3 separate regions of the Homo sapiens genome follow, and all the other regions are linked to region 3. Evidence: fine-mapped expression QTL. A gene starts in region 3. Each other region holds a variant in brackets. All regions are shown on one strand. Distances are from middle to middle.

The links.
Region 1: its variant is fine-mapped to the expression of ADCY3 in whole blood (TOPMed, PIP above 0.99).
Region 2: its variant is fine-mapped to the expression of ADCY3 in whole blood (TOPMed, PIP 0.90).

What each region holds. Positions count from the first base shown.
Region 1 is chr2:24,863,988-24,872,169 of GRCh38, reverse strand. The region is part of intron 3 of ADCY3 (adenylate cyclase 3); the gene reads left to right. Among named protein-coding and RNA genes, the nearest start is that of ADCY3, 52 kb to the left of the region's middle. The variant T/C (reference allele first, on the strand shown) is at 3,170.
Region 2 is chr2:24,467,426-24,475,607 of GRCh38, reverse strand. No RefSeq gene overlaps it. Among named protein-coding and RNA genes, the nearest start is that of NCOA1, 20 kb to the left of the region's middle. The variant A/CA (reference allele first, on the strand shown) is at 3,628.
Region 3 is chr2:24,916,031-24,924,212 of GRCh38, reverse strand. ADCY3 (adenylate cyclase 3) reads left to right here and starts at 3,976. Exons shown (of 22, transcript NM_004036.5): 1 at 3,976-4,530; 2 at 5,029-5,900. The coding sequence starts at 5,226. It overlaps LOC124907742 (a long non-coding RNA gene), which reads right to left and starts at 3,869. Exons shown (of 2, transcript XR_007086246.1): 1 at 3,641-3,869; 2 at 2,755-3,215. RefSeq lists silencers at 3,422-3,511, 3,522-3,731, 3,772-3,831, 3,862-4,591 and an enhancer at 6,994-7,243.

The sequences.
Region 1 (8,182 bases), 52 kb after region 3:
CACGCCTCCACCACCACTCTTGCTGGTCCAACCGCAGATCCACCCTGTGCACCTGCTCATGCCGTGGGTGGGGCCTTGACCCATCCTGCGGCCTCAGGGCCCTGCTGGGTGAAGTGTGTCAGCCTCACACCCCCACTCAGGGGAGCTCCTCCCTCCCTTACCTTCCCATCTGAGGTCACTGCTGAAGAAGGAAAACCAGCCTGTTCCCCGGGGATGCCCTTGTTTACATTCTCCATCTGGAGAGAGGCCTCGCTGTCCCTGCCTCGGTTTCCTGGCTTTCCTCCAGTCTCTTCCATGGCCGCACCATCCTCCCAGTTCTCATGTCACTCAGGCTTGTACATAGTTTTGGCCTGGATTAATCTCACATGCTTTTTGAAGGTCTCCAGAAATTACACCCACCAATTTCCTGTTATCCATAGGGTTATTTCCCCTTCAAAAACAAACTCAATAGGTTGACACTATGATTCTCTGCTCTGGGAACCATGTCATCTGTGTTCAGGAGGTTCTGTGTGCTCCTGATTCACTGAAATTGCTGTTTTCATAGATGCTGCCACTCGGGTGGACAGGGCCTTGGTTTCGGGGGCCACTCCGGAGCCCTTGGCTTGCAGGAGCCCCACCGTCGGGCCTCACTCACATTCTCTAGACAGTGCTGTTCCGAGGCACACACTAAGTCATTTAGCTGATGGGCCTCCGATTCCACTGTCCTGGGGATGTTTTCTTCCTCCCCGTTTACCAATCTCATTCCTTACAGAAGGCCCCCATAGGAGGGGATTTTCCCTGGCTGCCATTGTGACAAAGGTCCAGGCTTAGTAGCCCATCGTATTCGCCCCTTCCCCTGGGCCCTGTGACCTGTGGTTATTGAGGAGCTGCTGTGGCCTGTGTATATTTAAAGAATCCTCCTTTCCTGGCTTGTAAAGCCCCTTGAAAGGCATTCTTCAACTCTGTTTTTTTTTAATACTGTCTCATTTCTTGTTTGTATCTGATCTCGCACTGTGGAGGCATCCCTCTGGGTTCTCTGCACTTAAAAAAAAAAAATGCATGTGTCACCGCCTAGCTAGGCGAGCATTCTTTTTATATAACATTTGCGCAGTTTTCAGCATGTCTGTCTGCATTGATCTTGTCTGTCTCATATTGTACAATCTAGGACATCTTAACTCACACTGAACCGTCTTGTGGAGGCCCCCTGGTGTGATGAGGAAGGCCCTGTGTTTCACCCTGGGGCTGTTCTCGTGTAGATAATTTAGATAAGTTATCCACCCTACAGAGCCTCACTTTTCCTCATCTGCAAAGTGGAGGTATTGACATTTGTCTTGTAGGTTTCTTGAGGGTCAAATGAGAAACCCAGAAGTGCTTTGTAACCCATAGAGCTTTTTTAGAGGTAGGCCGAGTGCACGGGGCCATGAGGCCTGCTTTCTAACACCCAGGGCCATATGCTTCCTCTGGGCAGGGTCAGTGCAGGGAGCCTGGGCACCAGCAGAGAGGGTCATCCCTGGGTGCCCCAGGGCTCCTGAGGGTGCTAGCAGCCTGCCCGGGCCACAGTGGTGCTTCTCTGCATTGCCTGCCCACGCTGCAGTGGCAGAGCAGACATTGGCCCCAGGATGGAGAGGTCCAGGTTAGGTGGAAGGGAGGTGCAGAGGTGTGGGGGGAGTTGAGGGGTAAGGTGCATCCTCAGGCCTAGCTGGGCACACAGCCGGAGCCTAGAATTCTCCAAGTGGGATGAATTTGTCTAGCCAGGCTCTGTCCTGAGTGTGGCCTTGGGCTCGTTGCTGCCCCTCTTTGGACTTCAGTATCCCCATATGTAAAACTTTTGAGAGATTTTTTTTTCTTTCTTTTTTTTTTTTTTTTTTTGACATGGAGTCTTGGTCTTGTCACCCAGGCTAGAGTGCAGTGGCACAATCTCGGCTCACTGCAACCTCCGTCTCCCGGGTTCAAGCGATTCTCCTGCCTCAGCTTCCCAAGTAGCTGGGATTACAAGCACCTGCCACCACACCTGGCTAATTTTTTTTTTTTTTATATTTTTAGTGGAGACGGGGTTTCACCATGTTGGCCAGGCTGGTCTCAAAACTCCTGACCTCAGGTGATCCACCCGCCTCGGCTTCCCAAAGTGCTGGGGTTACAGGCATGAGCCACCGTGACCTGCTGAGAGATTGTTTTAAGGGTAAGAAGGAATCTATGTGAATCCCACTGGGATTGGTAAAGCACTGTTACCATTGGGAAGGATGGAATCCTGCCCCCTGTGAGTTTCCATTTACCTACATTCTCCTTACGTCTTCTGTCTCTGTTCAAGAGAGAAACCTGCCTGCCATTTTCCTTCCTTTCCATGTGCTTGACAGGTTTTGGTATTACGGTTATGCCCAACTCATTAAATAATTTGAGAAGTTTCTAACCCCTGATAGTTTGAAGATAATTTGGGTTATTCCTTAAATTTGGAAGTCACAGCCAGGCATGTGGCTGGCCTGTAGGTGTGGCCAGGCAGGTGGCTATGCCTGTAATATCAGCACTTTGGGAGATTGAGACAGGAGGATCACTTGGGTCCAGGAGTTCAAGACCAGCCTGAGCAACAAAGCGAGACCCCATCTCTACAAAAAATTAAAAAATTAGCTGAGTGTGGTGGTGCATGCCTGTAGTCCCAGCTACTTGGGAGGCTGAGGTGGGAGGATCGCTTGAGCCCAGGAGGTTGAGGCTGCAGTGAGCCATGATTGTGCCACTGCACTCCAGCTTGGGCAACAAAGTGAGATCCTGGCTTTAAAAATAAAAAAATAAAAATAAAAAAGGCCCTAATGAAGAAGTCCTATAGGCCTGGAGTGTTCTTTAGGGGAAGATTCTGTTTCCGTCATAGATAATAAGGTTGTTCAGATTTTATATTTCCTTTTATATAGGTTTTAGAGAGGTTTTTTTCCCCCAGAAACATGTCCATTCAAATTTTCAAAATTTTGGCATAATATTCTTAATATTTTCTTTTTATCTTTTGTCTGAAATGGGTAATGATGTTCCTTTTTTTCATTACTGAAGATAATTTGTGCCTTTTTAAAATTTTTCTTAATCAGTCTTGCTAAGGCTTATTGTTTTAGCCTGTTCAGCAGACCACCGTTAATCTTTGTTGCTTTCTTTGTACATTTCTTATCTCTGATTTATTTATTTATTTTGAGACGGAGTCTGGCTCTGTCAC[T/C]TAGGCTGGAGTGCAGTGGCGCGATCTAGGCTCACTGCAAGCTCTGCCTCCCGGGTTCACGCCATTCTCCAGCCTCAGCCTCCCGAGTAGCTGGGACTACAGGTGCCTGCCACCATGCCCGGCTAATTTTTTTGTATTTTTTTTTTTTAGTAGAGGTGGGGTTTCACCATGTTAGCCAGGATGGTCTCCATCTCCTGACCTTGTGATCTGCCTGCCTCAGTCTCCCAAAGTGCTGGGATTACAGGCGTGAGCCACCGCGCCCAGCCTCTTATCTCTAAGTTAAACTTTGTCATTGCCTCTTTTTTCTTTGGGCTTAATTTGTGTCCTTTTTTACCTTCTTAAAATGGAACTTTATTGTTGTTTTTTGGAGACTGAATCTTGCTCTGTTACCCAGGCTGGAGTTCAGTGGCGCAGTCTAGGCTCACTGCAACCTCTACCTCCTGAGTTCAAGGTATCCTCTTGCCTCAGCCTCCGAGTAGCTGGGAACACGCCCGGCTAATTTTTTGTATTTGTAGTAAAGACAGGGTTTCACCACGTTGGTCAGGCTGGTCTCGAAACCTCGGCCTCCCAAAGTGTTGGGATTACAGGCGTGAGCCCCCAGGTCCAGCCAAAATAGAACTTCAGATGACCGATTTTCAGCCTTTCTTTCCTAAAACATGCATTTAATGCTACAGATCTCACTCATTACATTGTTTGAGCTTTATCTCACAAGTTTTAATATGCCATATTTTCAGTGTCGTTTAATTTAAAATATTTACTAATTTTCATTGAAATGCCTTTGATCCATGGGCGACGTAGAAGTGCACTAAGTTCTAAACATTTGAGGATTTGTTTACAATTATGTTGTTTTTTATCTTTATTCTGGTCAGAGAACATACTCTAATTTCAAGTCTTTGAAATTTCTTGGAACTTGATTTTTGGCCTAGCATGTGGTCAGTTTTGATGCACTTGAGAATAATGTATATTCTGCCAAATCTGTCAAAATCTTTAAAAAATGAAATAATGTCAACTATGTCATATTTGCATCTGCCCCAAATTAGTACTTACCTCTTTAGTCATGATGCAAGGACCTCACAACCTTTTAACTTCATTTCACAAGCCTCTGCCCCCCACTTTCTGCTTATTAGTATAATGTGTTTTAGTTCAACATATTTTAAACCCCACAAGTCCTTATTGTGATTATTTTATGTAATATTCTTATTAATATTCTTTACTTATATTTACCCACAGTTTTGCCCTCTCAATTGCTCTTCCTTTCTCCATTTCTTTGCTTCATTTTCTTGAAGAATTCCCTTTAGTATTACCTTTTATGCTGATCTCTTGGTACCAAATTCTCTCCATTTCTGATTACCTAGGAGTGTGCTTATTTTGCTTTCATTTTCGAAAGATACCTGTCTTCATCCGTTTTGTGCTGCTACAACAGAATACCTGAAACTGGGTAATTTATAAAGAACAGAAATTTACTACTTACAGTTCTAGAGGCCGGGAAGTCCAAGATCAAGGCACCAGCATTTGCTCTGGTGTCCATACATGGCAGAAGGGTGGGCTAGCTGAATGTTATGTGATGCCCCTTTTAAAAGAGCCTTAACCCTCATGGCCTGATCCCCTCTTAAAGGCCCCACCTCTTAATAGTATTACATTGGCAGCACCTGAATTTTGAACAGACACATTCAAATCATGCCAAGACTTTTTGCAGATAATTCTAGGCTGCCATTTTTTACTTCTAGCCCTTTAAAAGCATTTCACTATCCTTCCCGCTTCCTTCATTCCTGTTGAAATGCCAGTTGTCAGATAGACTGTTGCTCCCGTTACATTAATGCATACTTTTTCCTGTGGTTGCTTTCCCAATGCTCTTTGTTTTTGGTTCTCAGCAGTTTTACGATGCTGCGCCTGGGAGTTTTCTTTGCAGTTGCTCTGCTTGGTATTCAAAGAGCTTCTTGAATGTTGGTTTGACATCTCTCGTCAGTTTTGAACATTTTCAGCCAGTATCTTTTTATTGCTTCTTCCCATTCGCTCCTTTCCTCTAGGACTCAATATCCTTGTTAGACATTTTTACCATGTTCCAGAAGTATCTCTCTTCTTTTTCTGAATCTTTTTTTCTTTTTGCACTTCAGACAATGTTTTGATGGGCCTAATCTACAGTTTACTAATCCTGTCTTCCTCTGGTTTGTCAGATCAGTGGTTGAGCTCTTTTATTGAGTCATCAATTTCAATTATATATTTTTCTGTCCTAGAATTTCCATTTGATTTTAAAAACTGGACTTAGGTCCCTAACGATGTATTCCTATTTTGTCATCTATTTTTTAGAATATATTAAACATTTATTTTAAAGTTCCTGACTGACAACCATAATAATACCAATGGGTATGCATTTTTTTGTTGTTGAAACCTGGCATCTTGGCCTTTTTTTTTTTCTTTTTTTTTTTTTTTTTTTTTGAGACAGGGTCTTGCTTTGTCACTCAGGCTGGAGTGCAGTGGCTTATGCATCTTCGAGTTCCTGGGCTCAAGCAAAACTCCCACCCCAGCCTTTTGAGTAGCTAGGACTGCAGGCGTGTGCCACCATGCCCAGCTAATTAAAAAAATGGTTTTTTGTAGAGATGGAGTCTCACTGTGTTGCCCAAACTGGTCTCAAACTCCTGGCCTCAAGCAATCCTCCCACTTTAGCCACCTGGCATTTTTAAAAATTAAATACTAGATATTGTGGATGGGAAATAGTAGTGCTTCTGAATAATGTTGTGTCTCTCCAGGGAAGATTTACTTTTCTTGTGGCAGATGGTTAGAGCAGGGGCAGATAGGAAATAGCTTCTCAGGGGTCTTACCTGAAAGGCTGGTGCTTTTCTCATGGTATCTTGAACTCCTCAGCAATGTGAGGCTACTGAAAGCTTAGCCTCTTAGTCTCACTTTCTGCTTGGATTCTTGGTCTCTTGCCCCATGCAAATACTAAAGGGTAATAGTGTACAGAAAGTCAGACTCACTGTTGTATGGTTCTCTTTCCCCGGGGTCTTAGCCCCTCTACTCTCTCTGCCTTGGAATCCTTGCTCACAGTCCTTGTTTCTCCAGCCCCTTGAAAGCCCTCATCATTGCTCTCTCTCCAGCCTCTCGACCCTGGTCGCAAGGGAAAAGTGGTGGAGTGCATTGGGCTCACTTAAATGTGTTTCCCTTCCCCTGAGATCTTGGCCCCTCAAATCCTGGCTGCTTTGGTTGTTTCCATTGCCTTTAAAGAGCTAGGTTCTTTTTATGTATTTTATCCAGCTTTTATAGTTGTTCTTGGCTGGAGGGTTGGCCTGCTATAAGATCCTCTATAGCAAACGTATACATGTATAAAATCGTAAAAGTATGAAAAAGGGTATACTAGGAAAAGTAAGTCATCCCACCTTCATTTCCCCTAGCCATCCAGCCCCCATCCATGAATCACCAGTCACTATTATCTTTTTAATGTACCCTTTCAGAGGTTTATAGAATTTTCACACACACACACACACACACACACACACACACACACACACACACAGATGATAGCCTATTCACTCTTTTGTACTAAATCTATTTTTCTTTTTTTGAGACAGAGTCTCACTCTGTTGCTGAGGCTAGAGTGCAGTGGTACAATTTCGACTCACAACTTCCGCCTCCTGGGTTTAAGCGATTCTCCTACCTCAGCCTCCCAAGTAGCTGGGACTATAGGCATGCACCACCACGCCTGCCTAATTTGTGTATTTTTAGTAGAGATGGGGTTTCACCACGTTGGCCAGGCTGGTCTTGAACTCCTTACCTAAAGTGATCTGCCCGCCTCGGCCTCCCAAAATGCTGGGATTACAGGCACTAGATCTTTTCACCTACTATCTTAGAGAGCATTCTAAGTCTGTATTGCATTGCCACAACCTTCTTAATGACTGTGTTCAGTCATTATACAAAAGTAACAATTTATTTTGTTGCGCTCTCCATAGATTTCTAGGTTATTTCCAATCTTTTGCTACTGTAAACATTGCTGTAATAAATATCCTTGTAGCGGTATTTATTATATCATAGTATATATGTGCAAGTGTATCTGTGGAAGAATAAAAACCTAGAAGTGGAATTGCTGGATCAAAGGACATTTGCATTTTAAAAATTATATATATAGCTACTGTAAAATATACATAGTATAAAATTTACCATTTTAATCATTAAGTATACAATTCAGTGGCATTAAGTGCATTCACAATGTCGTGCAGCCATCACCACTGTCCGTTTCCAGAACTTTTTCATCATCCCAAAGAGAAACTCTGTGCCCATTAAACAATAACTGCCCATTCTCCCAGACTCTGGTAACCACTGTTCTACTGTGTCTCTGAATTTGCCTCTACTAGGTCCTTTATATAAGCGGAATCATGTATTTGTCCCTTTTTGACTGGCTTATTTCACTTAGCATGATGTCTTCAAGGTTCTTCTGTGTCGTCGGGCAGATCAGCATTTCTTTCCCGTTAAGGCTGATATCTCCTTGCATGTATACACCACGTTTTGTTTGTTCATTTGGACATTTGGGTGTTTTCTGCGGCTTTGCTATTGGGAATGGTGCTGCTGTGAACACGGGTGTACAGATATCTGTTTGAGTCCCTGTTTTCAGTTCTTTTGGATATATACCCAAAAGTGGAATTGCCAGGTCATATGGTAGTTCTGTGTTTAATTTTTTGAGGAATCTGGAATGTGCTTTTTTTGTTTTGTTTTGTTTTTTTGAGACAGAGTCTTGCTCTGTCGCCCAGGTTGGAATGCAGTGGTGCGATCTCAGCTCACTGCAGCTTCCGCCTCCGGGTTCAAGCTATTCTCCTGCTTCAGCGTCCCGAGTAGCTGGGATTACAGGTGCCCACCACCACTCCCAGCTAATTTTTCTTGTATTTTTAGTAGAGACGGGGTTTCACCATGTTAGACAGGCTAGTCTCGAACTCCTGACCTCTGGTGATCCGCCTGCCTTGGCCTCCCAAAGTGCTGGGATTACAGGCATGAGCCACCACGTCCGGCCTCCTATAGAGCTTCAAA
Region 2 (8,182 bases), 450 kb after region 3:
ACTTGGAGCTTATCTACACGGGTCTTATTTCCTAGAAGTTTTCAATATTTTTTCAATATGTCTGCATGATCTGGTGATTTAAATTTTTCTGATTACAGCATAAAATAGTATAGAATTTAGAATACATATAGAAAAATACACAGATCATAAGTGCCGAGCTCAAAGAATTGTCACAAAGTGAATAATATGTGTAATCAGAACCCAGATTGAGAAATAAAATCTGACCAGCAACCCAGAACATCCCCTGATGCCCCCACTTCCCCCAACAAAGGTAACTGCTAAACTAACTTCTATCTCCATCAGTAAGTTTTGCCTTGTTTGGGGCTTTATATAAGTTGAATTGTATATTTTGTGCTCTTTTGTGCCTGGTTTCTTTCATTCAACATTACGTTTTATGAGATTCACCCATGATGCTACAAGTAATTTGTTTTTTCTCTTTGCTGTGTGGTATTTTGTTTTATGAGTACGGTGCTGCTTATCCATTCCACTGTTAATGAACATTCTTTCCTGTTTTTGACTATTACTAATAGTGCTGCTATGAACATTCTCATACATGTTTTTTTGTGAATATATCCGCTCATTTCTGCTGGATATATATCAAGCCTGGGTATATATCAAGGAGTGGAACTGCTAGTTCAAAGAGTATGTGTTATATAGGTTCAGCATTCATAGGTAGTACTAACAGTTATTCAAAGTGGTTGTACAGGTTTGTGTTTTTATTTATTTATTTTTATTTTATTATTATTATTATTTTTGAGACAGAGTCACGCTCTGTCGCCCAGGCTAGAGTGCAGTGGCACGATCTCGGCTCACTGCAACCTCTGTCTCCTGGGTTCAAGCGATTCTCCTGCCTCAACCGCCTGAGTAGGTGGGACTACAGGTGCGAGCTACCACACTCAGCTAATTTTTCTTTTTCCTTTTTTTTTTTTTTTTTTTTGTATTTTTAGTAGAGACAGGGTTTCGCCATGTTGGCCAGGCTGGTCTTGAACTCCTGACCTCAACTGATCCACCCGCCTCAGCCTCCCAAAGTGCTGGAGTGCAGTGGCACGATCTCGGCCTCCTGGGTTCAAGCGATTCTCCTGCCTCAGCCTCCTGAGTAGCTGAGACTACAAGCATCTGCCACCACGCCCAGCTAATTTTTGTATTTTTAGTAGAGACGGGGTTTCACCATATTGGCCAGGCTGGTCTTGAACTCATGACCTTGTGATCTGCCCACCTCAGCCTCCTAAAGTGCTGGGATTACCAGGCATGAGCCACCGAGCCCGGCCCAGATTTATGTTTTTAATAGCAGTGCGTACAAATTCCAGTTGTTCCACATCCTTGACAATTCTTTATTTTAACCAGTCTGGTAGGTGTGCAATATCTTATTGTGATGTTAATTTAGATTCCTCAGATGACTCATGAAGTGGAGTATCTTTTCATATGTTTAAGGGCCATTTGAAATGCTCTTTTTTGAGGTGCCCGTCAAAATCTTTTGCCCACCTTCTGATTGTATTGTCTCTTTTTCTTATTGATCTGTAGGGGTTCTTTATATATTCTGGACAAAAATCCTTCTTGGGATATATATATTACATATGTCTTCTCTCATTATGTGGTTTTCCTTTTTACTCTCTTAATCTTATCATTTGATGATCTTAAGTTCTTAAAATTAATGTTTTTTAGTTTTGTTGGCTTTTCTTTTCTTCTTCTTCTTTTTTTTTTTTTTTTTTGGCATGGCCTTTCTCTGTTGCCCAGGCTGGAGTACAGTGACATAATACAGTGACATAATCATAGCTCCCTGCAGCCTTGAACATCTTGGCTCAAGCTATCCTCCTGCTTCAGCCTTCCAAGTAGCTGGGACTATAGTCATGCACCACCACATCCAGCTAATTTTAGAATTTTTTTGTAGAGATGGGGATCTCACTACTCACTATGTTGCCCAGGCTGGGCTCAAACAATCCTCCCACCTAAGCCTCCCAATGTTCTGTGATTACAGGTGTGAGCCACCACACCCTGCCTGGCTTTTCCTTTAGGCTTAGTGCTCTTAGTGTACTGCTTGAAAAATTTTAGACAGAGCAATTATAGTAGTTGGAAAAATAGTATAGGTCCATACAAAACTAAAAATAAATTAAGAACAAAAAACATGGCATTCATTAACTTCAAGAAAAAAATCAAACTAGAAACAAGACATAATCACAATATACTACTTGGTTCAACAGTGACAATTATTTACACAATTATAATACAATCCTTGACTACTGATTTATCCAAAAATTATGATAACTTTTTGAGGTCTCTGTGGGGGCCCAATAAGTAACAACCATCTTCCCAACCTGAGTTCTGAACAAATGGAAAAATAATGCAAAAGAGTGGCAGAGAGAGGTTAAATGTCACCTTTATTATAATCGATTAGAGGCCAAGTTGCAGAGTGTGGCATCAAGTGTTTTTGCAAAGTGGGATGGTTAAGACAAAACCAGACATAGATGGAATTACCCCCTCAGTCACATACGCCATGCTGGATCAAGGCGGGCCTTCTCACATGAGTCCTTCATGGTGCCCATGCAGCTGGCAGGAGCCCCTTTGGGTCAGCAGATGATTGTTTGACATCCAACACCACTAGATTTTCAAGGGAGTAGTTTAGTTTAAAAAGGAAGAAACTTTATCTATAATTCTTCTGGTAAAATGAAAATCACTCTAGGCAGGTATTCATGTAGGAGTATTTTTTTTATTTCAGCTTTTATTTTAGATACGAGGGGGTACATGTACAGGTTTGTTACGTGGGTATATGGAACCCAGATAGGAGCATAGTACCCAATGGGTAGTTTTTCAATCCATGCCCCACCGCCTCCCCTCCCCCTTTAGTAGCCTGCAGTGTCTATTGCTCCCATGTTTATGTCTGTGGGAGCTCAATGTTTAGCTCCCACTTGTAAGTGAGAACATGCAGTATTTGGTTTTCTGTTCTTGCATTAATTTGCTTAGATTATGGCCACCAGCTCCATCTATGCTGCTGCAAAGGACATGATCTCATTCTTTTTTATGGCTGCATAGTATTCCATCATGTATCTCTACCATATATATTTTTTTTATCCAACCCACCATTGATGGGCCCCTAGGTTGATCCCATGCCTTTACTATGTATGAAATGTGGCAATGTACATACAAGCACATGTGTCTTTTTGGTATACTGATCTATTTTAGGAGTATGTTTTCATTAAGATGTACCTAATGCTATAAAAAATAAACTCCTGGCCAGGCGCAGTGGCTCATGCCTGTAATCCCAGCAATTTGGGAGGCTGAGGCGGGCAGATCACCTGAGGTCTGGAGTTTGAGACCAGCCTGACCAACATGGAGAAACCCCGTCACTACTAAAAATACAAAATTAGCTGGGCGTGGTGGAGCGTGCCTGTAAACCCAGCTACTAGGGAGGCTGAGGCGGGAGAATCCCTTGAACCTGGGAGGCAGAGGTTGCAGTGCGCCAAGATCACACCATCGCACTCCAGCCTGGGCAACAAGAGCGAAACTCCGTCTCAAAAAAAAAAAAAAAACTCTCCTAAATTTATGTCTCAACCACAATATAAATTGAGTTATTAATGATATAACAGGCCAAGTCACGTGTTCCTCATCAGTGGAGGCAGCTCTGCCATTTTC[A/CA]CAGTTGACTTCCAAGGTTGCACTAGTCCTTTCAGTATACAGAAACATGGGAGGGAGGTTCTTACGGGCCAGGCATAGAAGTGCCACTCATTTCCACTCATGTTCGACTGGCGAGAGACCTAACTGCAAGGGAAGCTGGGAAATGTAGTCTAGCTATGAGTGCAGGAAGAAGAGGAGCCTACAAATTTTGGTGAACAGCTGTCTCTGCCACTGGATGTAAGGTTCATGTGGGCAGGGGCTTTTTTGTTCCTTATTGCCTCTTGTGAGTGACTCATAGTGGGCATTCGATAAATGTTTGTTGAATAAATAATGTAGTGGGAAGAACATGGGCATTGAAATAAAAAAGACCAGAATCCTAACCCGAGCTCTGCCACTTCGTAATTGTATTAATTTAGACAAGTTACTTAAATTTCTCAAGGCTCAATTTGTCATGTATAACGGAGATGAAAATATACTTGTGATCTGCTTCCCAGGCCATACTAGCCAGATGTGAGAATAGGTAGTAGCTGAAATTATGCCGACAAAAATAATAATAGTGGCTGGGCTCAGTGGTTCATGCCTGTAATCTCAGAATTTTGCAGACTGAGGCAGAAGGATTGCTTGAGCCCAGGAGTTCAAGACCAGCCTGGGCATCATAATGAGACCCCCATCACCACAGAAAATTTAAAAATTAACTGGGCGTGGTGGCCTGCATCTGTAGTCCCAGCTACTTGGGAGGCTGAGGCAGGAGGATTGCTTGAGTCCAGAAGTTCAAGACCAGGCTGGGCAACATAACAAGAACCTGTCTCTATTATTTAAAAAAAAAATTTTTTTAATAGTTATCATTTCCCTGGTCCTGCTTCCTCACTAATATTTCTGAAATAGGTCTCTGATTTCCTCCCAAATTACTCTGAGAGTGAGGAAGGGGATGTAACATGGAGAGAGTGGTTCTCTCATATATATATATTTTTAAATTTTATTATTATTATTATCATTATTTTGAGAAGGAGTCTCGCTCTGTCGCCCAGGCTGGAGTGCAGTGGCGCGATCTCGGCTCACTGCAAGCTCCGCCTCCTGGGTTCATGCCATTCTCCTGCCTCAGCCTCCTGAGTAGCTGGGACTACAGGCGCCCGCCACCACACCCGGCTAATTTTTTTTGTATTTTTAGTAGAGATGGGGTTTCACCGTGTTAGCCAGGATGGTTCTCGATCTCCTGACCTCATGATCCACCCGCCTCGGCCTCCCAAAGTGCTGGGATTACAGGCATGAGCCACCACACCTGGCCTCTTCTTCTTTTTTAAAATGTATTCTTAAAGCACTATATTTGTCCAAGCAGCCAATAGCGTCTCCATTTCCCTGTTTTCTGCCTCTGGCACCCTGGAGTGGCCAGATGGTCAAGGCTTGGGCTGAGGCTACAGGTTCCCAATGCCTTCATGCTCCCAGATCACTACGTGCTCTCGGTTCCTTCCAGAGCCCCATGGCTCTGCCACGTACGCTGCCCAGCAAGGGTGCTCCAGGTCATACTATCTTGCCTTAATAGCTTTCAATTGCAGTGGCTTTGTTTGTTTGCTTCTATTCTTTTATTCAATCTCACTAGACTAAGGCAGAAATCCCCAGAGCAGAGACAGCATATAATGTTAGCGACAAGCAGCTTACAATATTCATGACATCCCTCCCACTTTCACCCAAATTTGCCCCATTGTCCTTAGAATGAGCTCTTTCTCTGGACTTCCTTGATTCTTGAAGCAAATAGATTCCCTCCCAACAGACTTCCAGACATTTATAGATCTGTCAGAACTCTGGGCTGAACCTAGGTTTGTCGGCCTAGCTGGGATTCCCTGCACCCCACCCCTGTGCTTTTCTGCTTTGCAGGGTTGATGTTGGCATTCAATTAGATAAAGTAGGTAAAATACCAGAGTTGTTGGTGGCATCAAAAAGGTACACAGTACATGTTGCTTCTTTTCATATTATTTGGGCTACTTCTGGCATCACCAAAATTTATAGCTATACATCACTTATTCCCCTGAAGGTAGTCCCCTGGCTACAAGCACCCTTGAATTTGAGACAGATGGCATAAATACTACATCACCTTGGTACTTAGGGCAGGGTCTGCAAATTCAGTTAATAGACAGTCTTGGATATAGGGCCTGCAGGGATTGCATTTTCCAGAACAGGAAATAGAAAACTGATATGGGCCACAAGGGAGTGATACCATGAGAGCAGCATCTTCACACATTATTTTTCCAATTATCCACAGATATTTGCTATTCAAGTGGGGCATGGGAATTACTAAGGTAATTACTAGCTGTCCCAACAACTGCTATGTGGACCCTTCATTCCAAAAAAAGGGAAGAAGATATGAAAGAGAGAAAATATGCAAAATAAACAATATTCTAACCAATGCCTTTTGGATGAATTAGAGCAGAAAAGAACAGAAATGTGGAAAACAGGAGATGCTTGCAGTGACTCACAAATGAGCAGATGAGGGCCTGAACCAAGAAGGCAGTTGTTTAACTGCTTTGATAATGGCAAGTATGAGACATTGTAGAAGAAAAAATTAGGATAAGTTTTTGATGAGTTAGACATGGGACGTGCAAGAGAAAAAGGAACAGAAAGAATGATGAGGTTATTAGCTTGAGAAGCAGGGTAGTGCCTCTGAGCTTAAGGCATAGGACCGAGAGTGAGAAGACCTGTCCCTACCACTTTGAACAAGTGACTTAACCCCTCTTAGCCCACTCTTCTCATTTGTAAAGTGTCTCTGCTCACCACATAGTGGTTTTGTAAGGCACAAATAAGATGATGTGCAGGAAAGCTGCAATGTGCTGGACAAGTGAAAGGCAGTAATGTTCATCATCATCATCATCAGTAAGGAAGCTGGAAAGGGAATATAATGTGACTAAGAGTATGAGAAATTCAATTTTAAATATGCTAAGATGTTGGCTTAACATCAAAGTGAAGATAACAGAAAACTAGCTAACGTGGGGAATGACTTAAGGAGTTAATGAGTCAGGGCCATTATATACAACAACAACAACAACAACAAAATATGTTTCCATAAGAGGCCAAGTCTAATCTGTCATTGATGGGCATTTAGGTTGATTCCATGTCTTTGCTATTGTGAATAGTGCTGTAATGAACATACACATGCATGTGTCTTTATGGTAGAATAATTTGTATTCCTTTGGGTATATACCCAGTAATGGGATTGCTGGGTTGAATGGTAGTTCTGCTTTTAGCTCTTTGAGGAATTGCCACACTGCTTTCCACAACAGTTGAGCTACACTCTCACTAACAGTGTATGAACGTCCCATGGAATACTATGCAGCCATAAAAAAGAACAAGATCATGTCCTTTGTGGGAACATGGATGGAGCTGGAAGCCATTGTCCTTAGCAAACTAATGCAGGAACAGGAAACCAAATAGCAGATGTTCTTACTCAGAAGTGGGAGCTAAATGATGAGAACACATGGACATAAAGAGGGAAACAACAGACACTTGTGCCTACTTGAGGGTGGAGGGTGGGAAGAGAGAGGATCAGAAAAAATAACTATTGTGTACTAGGCTTAGTACCTGGGTGACAAAATAATCTATTTAACAAACCCCCATAACACAAGTTTACCTATATAACAAACCTGCACATGTCCCCTGAACCTAAAATAAAAGTTAAAAAAAAGGGGCCAAGTATTCTAATTTATTGAGCTGATTTGGGATATAAGGTCAACTGTGGAACTGAGGCATATAATCACTTGCATAGTAGAATAAGCATACGCAGCACACCTGAGCAATAGCGTTACTGGTATTTCTGTGCTATGAGAGCCTGGATGTGGCTGCCTTAACACTACAGACCCTTGACTGGAGCTTCATTCATCAATGTCCTTGGATGTCCACCTATGAAGTGCACAAAAAGAGCAAAAGCAAATTTGACTAAAATGGGAAGGGGAAATGGTGTAGGAGTAAACAGTAAAAAGGAAAAGAAAGCCAAGATAAATGTAAGAAAGTAAAAGGAGATGTTGAGTAAAGGATATTTGTCCATGGGATGCAACTATAAATAAACCAGGGAGAAAAAAGATTTTTATGTACTTAAGAATGGAAATCAATGAACTGGACTGAGTATTGTATCAAAACTGTAAGGCATATGATTGTGATGGAAGACACCTCACTTCCTTTTCCTGAGAGAAAGCCACAGGTAATCACCCTTTGTAAAATAAATCATTTTGTATATATGAAAAGAGAATTTGCTGTTTGAAGGAATCCCATGATGGTTCCTCATATAAAGTAAGAGTTCACTTCATAAAGCAAACAATCACTCCCATTTGTGAAATGGATGAATTGGTTGATTGCACAATTTATCACTTGTGTATAGACCTGTATTGTCATCTACTAGGACTCTGTAGATCAAAATAAAGATGACGTTGAACCTGAAGTTCAGCTAGAGATAACCCATTTTCTACCTTCTCTCCCAACTACCTCTTCTTGAGTAAGTTCCCTGGAGATGCCACACCACATCTCCCTCCAAAAGTAACCAAAAAATGAATGACTGAAGAAAGAGGGGGCCCCCGGCCTGGGGCCATCTGGT
Region 3 (8,182 bases):
CATATTTACCGGCTTTCCTGCCTTCTCTGTTTTGAGCTTCCCAGGCTCCTGCTCTGTTTCCCTGGAATCACTTCCCCAGTTGAACCACCTGCATGCAGGCCGGGTCTCAAGCTCTGCTTTCAGGCCCCAGACAGGGCTCTCCTGGTGCCCAGCACCAGGGGAGCTAATGATCTTCTCTCTCCCACTTCTGTTTTCCCCCAGGACACAGAGTTCTGCTCTGATCTATTGTTTGCTGGATTCAAGAGCCACCACATTCCCCGGGGGGGCCAAACCATTCTTGTTTATCCAGTAACAATTAATTCTCAGCCATGATTTCTAGTCTTGAACCACACAAACAAAAAGTTGCCTTCAGCAAAGAGGCATCCCATCCAGGCAGATGCTGGATTGAGGTTGGGGGGGGTCAGGATGCCCTCCAAGCTTCGACCTAAGTCTATGATTCTGTCTTCCTTTTAGGACAAGCCACAGGGGCAAGTCACCCATGCAGCCATTTGAGGTCCTGAGTTGTGTGTGTATAGATTTCCTGTATCATTTGATTATAAAAGCGAAGCATGCCAGTTGTCCAGGTTACATCAATACAAAATGTATAGCTTGGAAAGTGAAAACAGCTCCCCCATAATCCCACCCTTTTCACTCGAGGGTGGATATTTTTCATTGCCCTGGGACCAGGACATTCTCAGTATCAGGGAATGAGGCCAGCTGGTCCCTTCAAGGACAGCCAGTGCCTTTATAAAGTACCATTTCTTCTTAGGGAGACTTCCATTCATTCAATGACTATTTTTTGAGTATCTACTAGGTGCCAGGTACTGGGGAAGCCACTGTGAGTGAGATGGATGAGGCCCTCGCGGCATTTTCCCTGATCTCCTCTGTGGCAGGATGTCAAGCAGCTCTCTTGCCCAGGAATATTCACCCAGATGCTTCTGGCTCCCCGGGAGTCCTCGCAAGGGCCTACTGCTGTCCCACTGCGTTTCCCATATCCACAGGGAAAGGCCGTGCCAGAACCCTGAACGCGGAGCAGGGATGGGAATGTGCTGTGCTCTTCCTGCGGCTGGGCCTTTGCAGGGAGGCTCCAGCCACCTGGAACGCCTGCCTTTCAGGCCCATCAGATCCTTCCCTCTTGCCCTGAAAGGCCCTGTCTCTGATCACCTCAGCCAGAAGTCACCCCCAACTGTAACCTGTGTACACCTGAGGGTCTGCCTCATGAGTCAACATGGTGCCTTGGCAGAACTATAAGGCTCCTCTGGTTTCCCCAGTGCCCGCTGAACAGGGGCCCACAGAGGAGAGATAGGGATGGTGGAAGAACAGGGAGTGGGACAGTGAAGCCAGCAGGCAGGGGCTGGAGAGGCAGGGATCAATTTGTTGTTGTTCTTTTTATATGAGGGTGCCTCTGTGTGGAACTCTCTCCCTTCATGGGGTGGGAGGCTGGGGCATGAGTGGTGGCAGAGGGCCCAGCAGAGAACCCTCTCAGCTTAGGAGCTGGGCATGGCCTTGCGGACAGGGTGCCACACTGAGAATCACAGGGCTGGCATGTATGCCAAGGAAGGGGAAGGGACCCACAGAGGGTGCAACATGGTGTCTCTTGTGCCAAAGCAGGACCAAGCACAAGATTTATCAGCCTTTTAAAAAACATTAGCACATCTCTCCCCCAACCCCCACTTTTTTTTGAGATAGGGTCTCATTCTGTTGCCCAGGCTGGAGTGCAGTGGTACGATCTTGGCTCACTGCAACCTCTGCCTCCTAGGGTCAGGCGATTCTCCCACCTCAGTCTCCTGAGCAGCTGGGACTTCAGGCACCCGCCACCACGCTCGGCTAATTTTTGTATTTTTTGGTAGAGACAGGGTTTTGCCATGTCAGCCAGGCTGGTCTCGAACTCCTGACCTCAAGTGATCTGCCTGCCTCGGCCTCCCAAAGAGCTGGGATTACAGGCATGAGCCACTGCGCCTTGCCGTACATTACATCTCCCTTTGTAAAACATAAAAGTCATGTCCTCTTTAACATCATGTGACAATTCAAAATAAATGTTTAAACCTCCAGCAAAGTCCAGGCATGATGGCTCACACCTGTATTCCCAACACTTTGGGAGGCTGAGGCAGGCAGATCACTTGAGGTCAGGAGTTCGAGACCAACCTGGCCAACATGATGAAACCCTGTCTCTACTAAAAATACAAAATTTAGCCAGGCATGGTGGCAGGTGCCTATAATCCCAGCTACTTGGGAGGCTGAGGCAGGAGAACTGCTTGAACCCAGGAGGCGGAGGTTGCAGTGAGCTGAGATGGCCACTGCACTCCAGCCTGGGCGACAGAGTGAGACTCTGTCTCATAAATAAATAAATAAATGCCTTCCTTTTTAAAAAACAAAAACAAAAAACAAACCACAAATAACTCCCTCCAAAAAAAATCCCCCCCAAAACCCAAAAACCTCCAGCAAATTAAAACAATGGGGCAGCCCAGAGCAGTGGCTCATCCCTGTAATCCCAGCACTTTGGGAGGCTGAGGTGGGCGGATCACTTGAGGTCAGGAGTTCAAGACCAGCCTAGCCAACATAGTGAAACCCCATCTACTAAAAATACAAAAATTACCCCGGGCTTGGTGGTGTGTGCCTGCAATCCCAGGTATTCAGGAGGCTGAGGCAGGAGAATTGCGTGAACCTGGGTGGTGGAGGTTGCAGTGAGCTGAGATCACAACACTGCACTCCAGCCTGGGTGACAGAGTGAGACTCAGTCTCGAAAAAATAAAAAATAGAAATAAAATAAAACAATGGGGCAAAGTTTTGCTTTATTTAAATTACCAAACTCCTATATCTGATGTTAGGTCCCCTACCTTTGGAATCAAAGCCCTGCGAAGTATGGGCTGAAGGTGGCGCCTTTTCAGACAGAGTGTGAGGGAACGGTAGAAACAGCAGTGGCAGGATCGATTCTCTAATGGATCCATTCCCCGAGGGATGCAAGGTGATGCCTGAGGTTCTGGAAGGGGTGCCCGCGGATAACTCTCAGGGGCATGGGGTGGCAGCTCCATCCAGGGTCTGGATAGCCAAGTTTCTCTCCCCTCTGTTCATTCCTTCAGCTCTCCCCAGGGGAGATGACCCCCTATTGCTGCTGGCTGTCCTCAGCACTTACCTTCCCACACATGCTTTTGTCCCTTTTGTCCCAAAACATTCTATCTCTTTCCTCTTCCTTTATTTAAATTCCCAAAGCCTGTAGTTGATCTTAGCACGGTGTTCTGTCAAATGCAAGGAAAATAATTTATACTATGGTGTAAGAGACTGATAGGTTTAACTATTCAAAGGAGCATTCGCATCTTTAAGGGACAGTTTGTGAACTCAAACACATCTCAAACGGGTAGAATGTGCACGGGAAATCTCTTCGAAGCAGGGTCTCAGGAACTCTTCCAGTTCCACGTGTGTAGTGCCCACCGGGCCACCGCCACCCGCCTCCTGGGAGCAGGACAGGGCTCCGCTGCCGAGCCCCTCTGCGGAAAGCTCAGGCCCGGCGCTCCGGAGTCTGGGCTCCCGGGGTGGGCGGGGATACTTAGGCCCCACGTGCCCCGCGGCGGAGCGGTCCCCAAACCTGAGCCCTGGCCTCTGCCGGCCCGGAAGGAAGCCGCGGCGGAGGAGGGGGCGGCGGGGTGCCCCGAGCGCGCCTCACCTGCGGGCGGGCGCGTCCCGGGCTTCCATCCTCCTAGACCGGGCCTCCTCGCTGGAAGGGGTGGATTCGCCCCAGCCCTGCCGCCCACCGCCCACCGCCCACGCCCGCGCCCGCGCCCGCGCTTCCACGCAGCCATCGCCCCAGCCCGCCGCCCGCGCCGGATCGGGGGCCGCCCGGGCCCCTCCACCTCTCGCCCGCGCGGGTCCTGGGACCGCCGCCCGGCGCCTCCCTCGCCGCCCCACTCCGGAACGCGCCGCCGAGAGGGCGGAGACTGGGGCGAGGGAGGGGCCGCCCCGCCCGCCTCCCGCCTCCCGCCTCCCGCCTCCCGGGGCCTGGAGCGCGCGTGGCCCCGGAGCCGCCGGCGCCGCGCGGGGAATAGCTGTGCAGCACGCCGAGCCCGGACTCGGCTGGCTCGGCTCGGCGCGGGCGGGCGAGAGGATGCTGGCGGGCTTCCCCGGGCTCGGCCCGCGCTCCCGCCGGGGAGGGCCCCGCGCGCGCCCCTAGCAGCCGCCGCCGCCGCGGGTGCAGGGGAGGGGTCCGGAGAGCCGCGCTCGCCGCCGCCCGCGCCTGCCGGCCCCCGCACGGCCCCTGCCCCTGAGCCTCAGCCCCAGGGCGGGCGCGCTGGGCCGGCGCCCACGGATCTCCCAGCCCTCGTCGCCGCCTCCTCCTTCCCCCTGCGGCCGGGCGCCCGCGGATGCTGAGGGGCAGCCCTGCGCCTCTCCCGGTCGGATCCCGGGCCTGACGGCGGGAGATCGCGCTCCGGCCGGGCCCCGAGGCGCTGCCGGGGCGGCGCGGCTCTGCGGGGAGCAGCCCTCGGGCGCGCCGAGCTCTCCCGCCCCAGCCCGCGCGGGGACCGTCCCGGAGCACGCGGTGGCCGAGTTCCCGCACAGGTAAACGCAGGGGCAGGGCCAGGCTTCCGGGGGGGAAGACAGCGCCCCGAGCGTGGGAAGGGGGCCGGATCGGAGCCCGAGCCTCCAAGGGTTTGGTGGAAAAAGGAAGTAAACAGAAGGAAGGCTCAGGAATCCCCCACGATGGTCCTGATTTCTTTCCGGCACATTTTATTTACAGCTTCTAAGGACTGGGCCTGGAGGGAATTTAGGTGAGGAAGTCGGGGACTGAGAAAGAAGAGATGACAGAGAGAAACCGGTTACCAGGGATGGAAAGGCGGCTAGGCCCTTCCACAAGCCAGGGACAGGAAATTGAGTGTCTGGCGTGGACAGGACTAAGTGTGCCTGCGGTGGGCGGTGGTGTGAGCCGGGGGTGGCAGGGAAGGCCCTGGGTTGGGAGGCTCTTGCAGCAGAGATCCTTTTATGAGGGTTAGGGCGGGTCATGGGGAAACCGCAAGGTAGGAGGGAAGAGGTGCTTCTACTCAGCAATGCCCTTTTCAGTTCTAGCTGATCAGTGCTACCTGTGCTCTGGAAACCCGCTCTGCGTTCCTGCTGGAGGTGGCCTCCCCTCCGCCCCAGACAAGAAGAGGCCCTCAGCCCTCCCCCGGTCTCAGAGAGCCCTGAGAGGAGGCCCAGTCCAGAGCTCTTCCTCCGTTCCCAGTCCACTTCTCTAGGGCCAGTAGCAGACACCAGCCAGTATGCCGAGGAACCAGGGCTTCTCCGAGCCCGAATACTCGGCCGAGTACTCAGCCGAGTACTCCGTCAGCCTGCCCTCCGACCCTGACCGCGGGGTGGGCCGGACCCATGAAATCTCGGTCCGGAACTCGGGCTCCTGCCTGTGCCTGCCTCGCTTCATGCGGCTGACTTTCGTGCCGGAGTCCTTGGAGAACCTCTACCAGACCTACTTCAAAAGGCAGCGCCACGAGACCCTGCTGGTGCTGGTGGTCTTTGCAGCCCTCTTTGACTGCTACGTGGTGGTCATGTGTGCTGTGGTCTTCTCCAGCGACAAGCTGGCTTCCCTCGCCGTGGCTGGAATTGGACTGGTGTTGGACATCATCCTCTTCGTGCTCTGCAAAAAGGGGCTGCTCCCGGACCGGGTCACCCGCAGAGTGCTGCCCTACGTGCTGTGGCTGCTCATAACCGCCCAGATCTTCTCCTACCTGGGCCTGAACTTCGCGCGTGCCCACGCGGCTAGTGACACGGTGGGCTGGCAGGTCTTCTTTGTCTTCTCCTTCTTCATCACGCTGCCCCTCAGCCTCAGCCCCATCGTGATCATCTCCGTGGTCTCCTGTGTGGTGCACACGTTGGTCCTGGGGGTCACCGTGGCCCAGCAGCAGCAGGAGGAGCTCAAGGGGATGCAGCTGCTGCGGGAGGTGAGTCCTGCCCACTGTCCCCCCACAGCGTCCTCTCCTGCAGCTCTCACCAACTTGGGACCTGTTGGAGTTGCTGTTTGCTTTGCCTTTGAGTCAAAATGTGTCCTGGGGGCCTCCGGGGCTCTCACCTCTCTCCCTAGTCCCTGCCTTTTCACCCCTGTGCCATTACCCGGAGTCTGCCTGTGCTTGGCCCCAGGGAAAGGAGGATGTCAGGGCATTGGGCCTCAGGGCCACTCTTCACCTGTGCCCAGTCTAAGTGTGTGACAGGAAGGCCCACCCAGGGCTGGTCTTGAGGCAGCATTGTCCTGGCCATTCCCTGTCAGTGACCCTGGCAAGGAGGACCTCCCTTGGGAAGAGGGCTCCTTGATTCCCATCTCTCCCCAGCACTGACTAGCTGTGTGGACTCAGTGCCCCTTTGTCAAATGGGGATAACGTCCGCTCTGCCTGCATGACACGGTTGTTGTCAGGATTGCAGGAGATGTGGGGGAAAGCGCATTAGGATACGTGAAGGGCTGCACAGAGGGAAGACGCAGTTGTCATATTTCCTGCCTCCGGGAGCTCGGGGTGCCTGGGGAGTTCTATGAAGTGGAGAATGGTGGTCTCCCCACTGAAGGTGTGGTGTGGGGATGCAAATGGGGACAGTCATGCCGGCCACTGTGACGTAGGGTCTCCTGGTCCTAAAGCACGCATTCTGCTGGTCCTGGAGCACGCTTTCTACTGGAAGGGGTGGAATTTCGGCCTCAGCTTAACTATTATAGTATTGTGTTCCCACCAAGTGCCAGGCCCTCAGGGGCTGCAGAGACCAGGGGACCTGAGGGACAGTAGGCAGTGTGTGTCCCTGGGGAGCCAGCAAGCCGGTGACCAGAGAATGAGGCGGAGATGTCTGCATCTGGGTTTGGTGCCCAGCCTGCCAGCCTCGTGCCAATGATGGTCAAGAGAGGCTCCCCCACTTCCTGCCCCTGCAGTGCTCTGTCTGGTAGAGATGTCTTAACTCCCACGCCAGCTCTGTTCTGTGGTTAGTGGGGCTGGGGTAGAGTCAGCTCTGAAGCGGTGACCTTCTGGGTGTCAGGAGAGGCAGGGCGTGCCCAGAATCCTTGCTGACTGACGTGAGCCTCTAGCAGCCATGGAGGTCAGTGCCTGGGTCCTGGAGACCAGGTGCTATGTGCAGGCCCAGGGTGGACAGACAGAATCTTCCACTCCTCTGCTGATTTCTCCACTCATGTCTCATCCTGCTGATTTGTTCTAGAAATGGGTAGAGGATGTTAACATAGGCAGGGCCTGGCAGGGCATCTAGCCCAGACTACCCATTTTACAGAGGAGGAAACAGAGATGAGTGATAACTGGTTCACTGTCACCCAGCACTTTGGTGGCAGAAACAGGACGGGAGCCCAGGCATTGACCCCCAGCCCAGGGCTCATTTGTGTATGTTCCTTGGAGCACTGAGAGCTGCCTGAGAGCAGGAGCTTTGCTTCCCACCCCACCTCCTGGAGACAGTGGCTATGTGCTGCCCTGCCGTCCCCACCCCAAATCTCTGTAGAGGGGGCTGTGAGTTTCTGGTCATTGACTAGGTGGAAACACCAGTCATATCTCTTCAGGCCATGCATTAGCCAGTCCCAGGTTCTTTTTTTTTTTGAGACGGAGTCTTGCTTTGTTGCCAGGCTGGAGTGCAATGGCGCGATCTCAGCTCACTGCAACCTCCGCCTCCCAGGTTCAAGCTATTCTTCTGCCTTAGCCTCCTGAGTAGCTGCGATGACAGGCACGCGCCTCCACGCCTGGCTAATTTTTGTATTTTTAGTAGAGACAAGGTTTCACCATGTTGGCCAGGATAGTCTCGATCTCTTGACCTCATAATCCGCCCGCCTCGGCCTCCCAAAGTGCTGGGATTACAGGCGTGAGCCACCATGCCCAGGCATCCCAGGTTCTAAGGTCTGAGGTCTGAGGATGACTGGTCTCTCTAGCTCCATCTCCTCAGGTGGACAAGGAGCTTATTTTGAGGCTCCTGGAGCTTCCAGGGAAAAGGACTGAGAAGGTATGGCCACAGGGCTGGGCCGGGGCCTGGGTGCCCCACCACGTGGCTACTCGGAGATCACTTCTAAACTCATGATTGTTCTCCTTTGAGTATTGCTAAGACATAAAACCCTAAAACTTAGAAAACAGAAAAAAAAAGATAGAAATCAAGAATAAAAATATTAGCATCCCAGGGGAGCCTGACCTTGGCATGCAAGCAGTGCCTGGGAGGCAGCTTTGGGAACAGAGCAGGAGGGGCAGAGAGCTCTCAAGGT